3 separate regions of the Homo sapiens genome follow, and all the other regions are linked to region 1. The links come from fine-mapping of genetic effects on gene expression. A gene starts in region 1. Each other region holds a variant in brackets. All regions are shown on one strand. Distances are from middle to middle. Region 1 holds the start of KLK5 (kallikrein related peptidase 5). Region 2 overlaps KLK7 (kallikrein related peptidase 7). Region 3 overlaps CEACAM18 (CEA cell adhesion molecule 18).

What was found.
Region 2: its variant is fine-mapped to the expression of KLK5 in lung (TOPMed, PIP above 0.99).
Region 3: its variant is fine-mapped to the expression of KLK5 in visceral fat (GTEx, PIP 0.97).

Annotation. Positions count from the first base shown.
Region 1 is chr19:50,951,540-50,954,298 of GRCh38, forward strand. It overlaps KLK5 (kallikrein related peptidase 5), which reads right to left and starts at 1,499. Exons shown (of 6, transcript NM_012427.5): 1 at 1,208-1,499; 2 at 1,046-1,129. The coding sequence starts at 1,118. All of the region lies in intron 1 of LOC105372442 (a long non-coding RNA gene), which reads left to right.
Region 2 is chr19:50,975,463-50,978,221 of GRCh38, forward strand. It overlaps KLK7 (kallikrein related peptidase 7), which reads right to left. Exons shown (of 6, transcript NM_005046.4): 6 at 1,006-2,229. The coding sequence ends at 2,074. Among named protein-coding and RNA genes, the nearest start is that of KLK7, 7.1 kb to the right of the region's middle. The variant T/C (reference allele first, on the strand shown) is at 1,385.
Region 3 is chr19:51,482,232-51,484,990 of GRCh38, forward strand. CEACAM18 (CEA cell adhesion molecule 18) reads left to right here. Exons shown (of 6, transcript NM_001405061.1): 4 at 786-1,065; 5 at 2,756-2,759. Among named protein-coding and RNA genes, the nearest start is that of CEACAM18, 5.1 kb to the left of the region's middle. The variant C/CTA (reference allele first, on the strand shown) is at 1,361.

The DNA.
Region 1 (2,759 bases):
GGGATTACAGGCGTGAGCCACCGCGCCCGGCCTGGTTCTTACCCTTGCTGATGGCCCTGGCACCACCATCATTCACGAACTCACCCCAAGAACCACGCGCACAACAGCAGTAACAGCCAAGCACGCACGCAGTTCTGCAGACACGCCCATGTTGCCTCCACAGGTGCAGCTAACATACAGCTCTGTCTCCAGGTACACACGCTCCCGGGCAGCCTAGCGGGATCGCACACCCTCATCCACAGTGTCTCAGTGCCACGCACAGATGCCGTGTGTGCACAGATGTTCAGACTGCCACATACTCTTCTGCACACAGGCACACACTGCAAGTCAGTCACCTGGCACCCATCTCCCAGAGATAGCTACCCCTGCACCCTCTATCCCTCCAGGCAGAGACAGAAACTCCAGACACACAGCTGCACCATCACACATACAGTAGCATTTACACGGCCTCACACAGACACACACAGTCACATACAGTCACCCCTACACAGAGCTTCAGGTAGTCACACGGTCACAAATACGGGCATCCATAACGTCACACTCAGCCACAATCACATAATCGCCTGCAAGCAGCACACAGTCACAGCTTTCCATGGTGATGACCACTTTTGTTGCACGCAATCCCGGGACCTCAGGGACAGGAACTGCAGATACCTGCAGTCATATACAATGCCAAGTCACCACACACAGCCAAACACACAGTGAACACCCCCAGTGCTACATGCATTCACCCACACAGCTGTGGAGCCACACACAATCTTAAATGCACACACAATCACAAAACCACACACACAGCCTCAAAGGGTCAGTGCCACCTGCCGCACAGTCACCTGATATGGGAAAAGGCATCCCCCTCCCCGACACACACCGTGGCAGTCACAGGGCCACATACGATCGCACAACCACAAGTACAGACAGAGACTCACATTCACCCGGTCCCGGAGTCATGCCCAGGCTCACACAGTTCCCCAGGGGACAGGCGCTCTAGTGCCGCAGAGACAGTCCTCCCAATCCCACAACCCTCCCACCCCAGAGTTCTGGTTACCTGTGACCCCCAGAAGCAAGGCTGTGATCAGAGCACAGAGCACCCACATCCAGGGGGGTCTTGCTGTAGCCATGGCCGCTGCACCTGGATGGGGAATGTCAGAGGGTTGGGAGGCCCAGGCGATCCGGGGAGCCCTTAACCCACTTCCCCTCCCTCCCCTACCTTATTTCCCCAGGTAGAGAGGAACCACAAGGACGGGCCACCATCGGCACTGCGCTGAGACCCAGGCACTATAGAATTCAGAAGATAGGAGTCTAGCAGCCTCCAGACAGGGCAAGGAGGGGACAGAGAAAGATGTGGGTGCAGGACGCACAGACACCTCTCCTTCCCTGCCTGCTGAGCCACCCTCACCAGGTCTCACTTGCCCTGTCCCCCAGGTAGGGGGTGGGGGATTTGCTCCCAGCTCAGCCGCAGACTTCTCAGGCCTGTGCCTTCCTGGCCACTGCCTCCTCCTGGGCTCTGGGCACCGGGCCTGAGTTATAACCACCCACTGCTCCCTGGGGCACATTCCCGGGCAATGAGGTGCCTATCGGGCCTTAGCAATAGCTCCTCCTGCTCCCCCTATCTCCACCCCCAGAGCACCCCCCACCCAGTCCGGAATGTCACTCCCTACCTCCCTGGCCCGGAGAATGGGGAGGGGTCTCCGGAAGCCAGGCCAGCCCCTTCCCTGCCTCCCCCAGCCTTAAGGATCTGGCTTCTCACCAACTCTGGGTCACTATTCTTGGCGCCTGGATTGCTTGCTTTCTTCTCTGCATTTTGCTCATTCCACCACTGTCTGTTCACCCTCGATACTCCTCTTTCCATCTTTGTCTCTGGTTTTTTCTCAGAGTCTTCTTCCATCTCTCTGTGGTTCTCCCTCGGCTATCTTTCTGAGTCTCTCTCAATATCTCGTGTCTCTCTCCACCCCTCTCTCTCTTTCTATCCCTCTCGCCTCTCTGTCTCTCTGTCTCTGTCTCTCTCTCTCTGTCTTTTTCTCTGTCTGTCTCTCACTCACTCTCTCTCTCTCTCCTCCTGTCTGTCTTAGGAGCCTTGTTTTGTTCTCCTTGGGCCACAGGTGTTTCTGTCTCCCTGTTCCTCCCTGTCTTTCTATGCCTCTGTGATTCTTTCTTTTTTAAAGGTTCTGAATGATTTGTCAAATATACCTTAGAGTTCTTGGCCCATTTATTTTCCTTTATTTCACTTCTGCTCTATTTGTTGACAGCATTTTTTTTTTAGATATAACTAAGGTACAACAAACTGCTTGTTCGTTTGTTTATTTATTTATTTGAGACAGAGTCTTGCTCTGTCGCCCAGGCTGGAGGGCGGTGATGTGATCTCGGCCCACTGCAACCTCCGCCTCCAGGGTTCAAGTGACTCTCGTGCCTCAGCCTCCAGCATAGCTGGGATTACAGGTGTGCCCCACGACACCCGGCTGATTTTTTTTTTTTTTTTTTTTTTTTTAGTAAAGACAGAGTTTCACCATGTTGGCCAGGCTGGTCTCAAACTCCTGGCCTCAAGTGATTCACCCACCTCTGCCTCCCAAAGTGCTGGAATTACAGGCATGAGCCACGGTGCCTGGCCCAAACTGCATATTTAAAGGGTAGAGTCTGATGGCTTTAGGTACTTGTCACATCAGCATAGTCAAGAAGATGATCATGGCCGGGCGCGGTGGCTCACGCCTGTAATCCCAGCACTTTGGGAGGCCGAGGCGGGCGGATCACGAGGTCAGGAGATC
Region 2 (2,759 bases), 24 kb after region 1:
GGTCTGAGGGAGGAGGGGCTCGTGGGGGCAGGCCTGCACTCCTGGGTCTGAGGGAGGAGGGGCTGGGGCTGGTCTGGACTCCTGGGTCTGAGGGAGGAGGGGCTGGGGGGAGTCTGGATTCCTGGGTCTGAGGGAGGAGGGGCTGGGGTTCTGGACTCCTGGGTCTGAGGGAGGAGGGGCTGGGGGGAGTCTGGATTCCTGGGTCTGAGGGAGGAGGGGCTGGGGGGTCTGGACTCCTGGGTCTGAGGGAGGAGGGGCTGGGGGCCTGGACTCCTGCGTTTTCTGTGTTAGCCTCCTATATGGGAGAATCAGAATTAGCGGCTGCAGAATTTCTGCAATATGACAGGGCTGTGGTGCCTGGGTTAGGAGAGACTCAGAGGGAGATGAGATAAGGAGGGGAAGGATCTGGAGGATCTTGGTGGGGAGGGAATTCTGGGAGAAAAACAGGAAGAACAGGTAGGAGGGCGTGTCCTGGGCTGGAGTGGCTCCTCGGTCAGCAGCGTCTGAGGTGTGACCACACAGAGGATCTTTGATGTTAGATGGCTGGGGCTGTGGCCAGGCTCTGAGTCACAGAGGACTCCTCCCTCATCCTACCCGCTTCCCGAGGTTCCTTTCCCTCCCTTCTTGGGGAGCAGGTGCCACCATCTTCCTCCGGCACTGTTTGCTTACTTCTGGCAGACCCCCGTGGGACCCCTGTGTCCTGTCTACTGTCATCCCAATCCCTCTGAAAACCGCCAGCCTCCCTCCTCACTTGTCACTCGTGAGATGCTCAGAAACACTTTCACACCCCTTCCCACGCTGATGAAGTTGGCCTGTTCTCTCCTCCCTCCTCCCTTCCTTCTTCCTCTCTCCATCCTTTCCTCTCTCTCCCATTTTACAGACAGGAAAAACTGAGATCTGGGAAATGGAAATATGCCCTGGAACAGGGCCGGCAGGACCAGGGCTCAAAACCAGGCACATATTTCTTTCTAGTCTCCCTTCCTGAAAGGTCACCTCTCTCCAATCTTAGATCTTCAGACTTTTTTCCCCACCTTTATTTTTCATGTTATAAAAGTGCACATTCAAGGAAAAGTACACAGAAGGAAGGAGACACCTCATGACGACCCCAGTATGCAGTCTGGGACATGTGTTTTCAGATCTGATTCTGTGAATATTTCATTTTTTATGGGTAGGGTCACATACATATATATTTTTGTCCTTCCTTTTGTCATTTAACATCCTATAGCCTAAATGTTCTTGAATAATACTGACAATTCTGTCTAAGTATCATTTTTAATAGGTTTGTAATATCATTGTGGGCTGGCCGTGGTGGCTCATGCCTGTAATCCCAGCACTTTGGGAGGCCAAGGTGGGTGGATCATCTGAGGTCAGGCGTTCAAGACCA[T/C]GCTGGCCAACATGGTGAAACCCTGTCTCTAGTAAAAATACACAAAAAATTAGCCTGGTGTGGTGGTGCACACCTGTAGTCCCAGGTACTTGGGAGGCTGAAGCACGAGAATCACTTGAACCCAGGAGGCGGAGGTTGCAGTGAGCCAAGATTGCATCACTGCATTGCAGCCCAAGCAACAGAGACTCTGTCTCAAAGAAAAAAAACATCGTTGTGCCAAGCCAGACTATTATTTAAGCCATCTGGTACTTTTGGAACATGTTTGATGGTTTCACTTCATTTCTGTGATAAATAATATCATGGTAAATTCAAGTCTTGTTCTACATTTTGGATTTTTTTTGTTTCAGTAGGTTCTTCCTAAGATTAGAGTTACTGGGTCAAAGGTGGTGAATAAGGGTCTCGGTGTACGTTGACCAAGTGTCTTCCGTAAAGACTGTACGAACGTCCAGTTCCAGTGTTTGAGAGTGCTGGTCTCACTGACTCTTCTCCAGCACTGAGGGTTTTGTGTTTCTTTATTTGTTTTGGTTTTAGGTCTTTACCAATTTGATTGGTTTATCAACAGGGCATGAGGTTGGTTTAAATATATCTTTGAGGAAAGGTAAAGTCAAATTTGACTTCATAGGTCATCGGCGTCCTCACTCCTGTGCATTTTCTGTTGGAAGCACACAGTTAATTAACTCAGTGTGGCGTTAGCGATGCTTTTTCATGGTGTCATTTATCCACTTGGTGAACTTGCACACTTGAGTGTAGACTCCTGGGTCATTGGGTTGGCCGCAAGGGAAAGTTCCCCAGGACACCAGACCTTGCAGGGTACCTCTGCACACCAACGGTCCCCCTGAGTCACCCTAGAGGGAATAGAGCCGGAGATTAACTTTGGCTTCAGATCAAAGCCCAACTCATTCTCATACATTCCTCAGTTATCGGTCTTTGTCTTGCAGATTATGGACTTCCACCATAGCCAATGAGAAGAGACTCATTGTCTCTGGGGACTAATGGGAGAGCTAGTGCTAGGGACACACTAGGTCCTTTGAAGACACTGGTTTGACCCTTGGCCAATGAGACCAATTGCAGAGAAGGGGTGGGGCTTCCAGGATCAGAGCACTCTTTATTTTCCAATGTTAAGGACCCTGCTCCAAGCTAGTGGGAGAAGGAACATCATCTCCAAGGGGTGGATGCGTGCCCTGTGGCGCAGGAAAGGGGGACACGATGGTCTCGGAGACCAGGGTGAAGACCAGTTACATAATTTACAGGACTTGGTGCAAAACGAAAATGCAGGGCCCTTTGTTCAAAAATTATTGAGAATTTCAAGACAACAGCAGGAATGCATTAGACTAAGTTTGAGACCCTTCTGAGTGTGGGGCTCTGTGTCCGTGCA
Region 3 (2,759 bases), 530 kb after region 1:
AAATTCTCAGACAGCTCTTGGAAATCGAATACGCTGAACTTATAAATACATTAACACTTAGATTTTTCCCCAGTATTCCAGGACTGCTCACAGAGTTTAATAAACTCTTCCACATCTTCCAACTGAAAACCATAATCACACATCTAAAATCACTTTCACGTCTCCTGGAACTACTCCAGCGGTCTGTCAGATTTCCTAAAGCGCAGGCTACGGCACCCATCCTGTGGAAGGTGGGGTTGAGGGGTGAACAATTTCTGACCTCCATACAGCTGTTTACAGGTCAGAGGCTTGGAACCAAGACCCAGGATCCAGAGGCTGCAGCTGCTCAGGGCAGTTGCTCCCAGGCCCTGAGACTGGCTCAATCCTTCTGTGTCAGTTGGAGTCATAAAGTCCTAATCCTCTCCTCCGAGCCTCATTGTTTTCCATCTATAAAATGGATCAATGGTGGAACCAGTCACATGGGTTGTTCTGGGAATTCAACAAATGTGGGGACAGGCACAGAGCTTAGAACAGTGCCTGGCACACAGTAGGCCCCATGTGTTGGCTTTTACTCCACTAATTTTATTACAATGTAAATGGCACCATGGGCCTGGCCTCTAGTAGTTCCTTAATCATAGAAGATGCTCTTATGGTTATTGTTGTTGACACAGCTGCCTTGCCTGGGGCAGGTCTAGGGGTTAGCCCGAGGTGCACAATGGGGAACCTCCTGGCTGGGGGAGGACTTCATGAGACGGGACGCCGAGGGGTCAGAAACATAGCCTGGGCCTCCTACCCTGTCTCTACAGATGGGCCCGACTATGTGCTGCTGAGGAGCAATCCTGATGATTTCAACGGCATTGTGACAGCTGAGATCGGCTCCCAAGTGGAAATGGAGTGTATCTGCTATTCCTTCCTGGATCTCAAGTACCACTGGATCCACAATGGCTCCCTCCTGAACTTCTCAGATGCAAAGATGAACCTCTCGAGTCTTGCCTGGGAGCAGATGGGCCGTTACCGATGCACTGTGGAGAACCCCGTGACACAGCTGATCATGTACATGGACGTCAGGATCCAGGCCCCCCATGAGTGCAGCAGCTCCCCTCCAGGCTCATGCTTTGCACATCTCCCTGCCTCCATGCCCTGCTAGGCAGTGCCCACCCTCAGGAGTGCCACCTCCACTGTGCCATGACATGCTCTCAACCTCTGGGTGAAATCTCCCAGTTCTCTGAGGTCTGGGTCCAAAGCTGCCTCCTCTGTGAATCCTCTGGAGTCCTCAGATCAGAGTCAGGGTGACTCCCAGGGGGATAAGAGTAGCAGACATTGGCTGAGCACTTACTATGTGCCCGCCTTTGTTCTAACCTGTGTGACTCTCACCATTTCT[C/CTA]TGGAGTAAGTGAATGCGATTGGCATCACCTCCATTTGACAGGTGAGAAACTGAGCCCCATGGAGTTTGAGTGCTTATTCAAGGCTCTATTGCTTTGTAACCCATGGAAGAGGTGGCATTCAAGCCCAGGCAGGCATAGCCTACACCCTCAACTGCTCCCTTCAGCTGCTTCAAGATGAGGAATTAGAAAGACGCAGGGACGGGATGGGTGGACGGGGAGTAGAGATTTGGCATGGCCATGGCGTCAGAAACTTGGCTTGGGAGTGAATTTGTAAATGGGGAAAGCATCTTCTTAGCAACCATGCGTCCAATCTTCTGCATCAAGGAGAGAGACTGATGTGCTCAGGGAGACTGCAGAGGAGTGCAGCAGGTAAATGCAGGGGCTCTACAGCCCAAGGTTCTTGGTCCAAATCCCCATTCTGCTGCTGCCTATCTCCATGAACCTGGGACAAGCAGCTCCATCGTTCCGAGACTCAGTTTCCTCAACTGTAATGAAAGGATAAGAATCCCTGCAGGGAAAGGGTGCTGTGAGAATAAAATGAAACTGTGCAAGAAAGTACAGAAGACATTACAGGATGTGGTCTCCAGACTTTACTTCAGCCACACTACCTCCTAAGCACCTACTATGCACCAGACACGATGTGTGCATGCAGCCCTCCAAGTCATCGATTCACATTTTTCTCTTCCCCTGGACTACAAGATTCAGGAGGGCAGAAGCTGGGGAAGCTTTTTTTTTTTTTTTAACAGAGTCTCGCTCTGTTGCCCAGGCTGGATGCAGTGGTGCAATCTCTGCTCACTGCAACCTGCACCTCCCGGACTCAAGTGATTCTCCTGCCTCAGCCTCTTGAGTAGCTGGGATTACAGGCACACGCCACTGTGCCCAGCTAATTTTTGTATTTTTACAAAATAGAGTAGAGATGGGGTTTCACCATGTTGCCCAGGCTGGTCTTGAACTCTTGACCTCAGGTGATCCACCTTGGGCGAGCTTTCTGTTTTCCATTTGTCCTCAGTGCTTGGCACAGTGTGTAGCACATAGTTGGTGCTCAGTGAACATTTATGCAATGAGTTAATGACCCTGTGTCACACACCCCCCTTCCAGTCACTGTCTCTCCCCTTATGAGGGTTTATTCTTCTCTATTCACTTATGGTTGCTTGCAGTGTGAGACATCTCTTTGCTTAATTGTCCACTGTCCACTTCCCAGCTAGAATGTCAGGCCCATGGGTACAGGGAGTTTGTTTTGTTGGCTGCTGAATCCCTCGTACCTGGAACAGTGCTTTGCTGATAATAGATGTTGACAAATCTTTGAAGAATGGATATGTGGGTGGGTGAAGAGATGAGTGAATGCATGAATGGGTCAATCGTGGTCCTGACCCCCAGGTGTCCTCTTCCTTCAGGGAT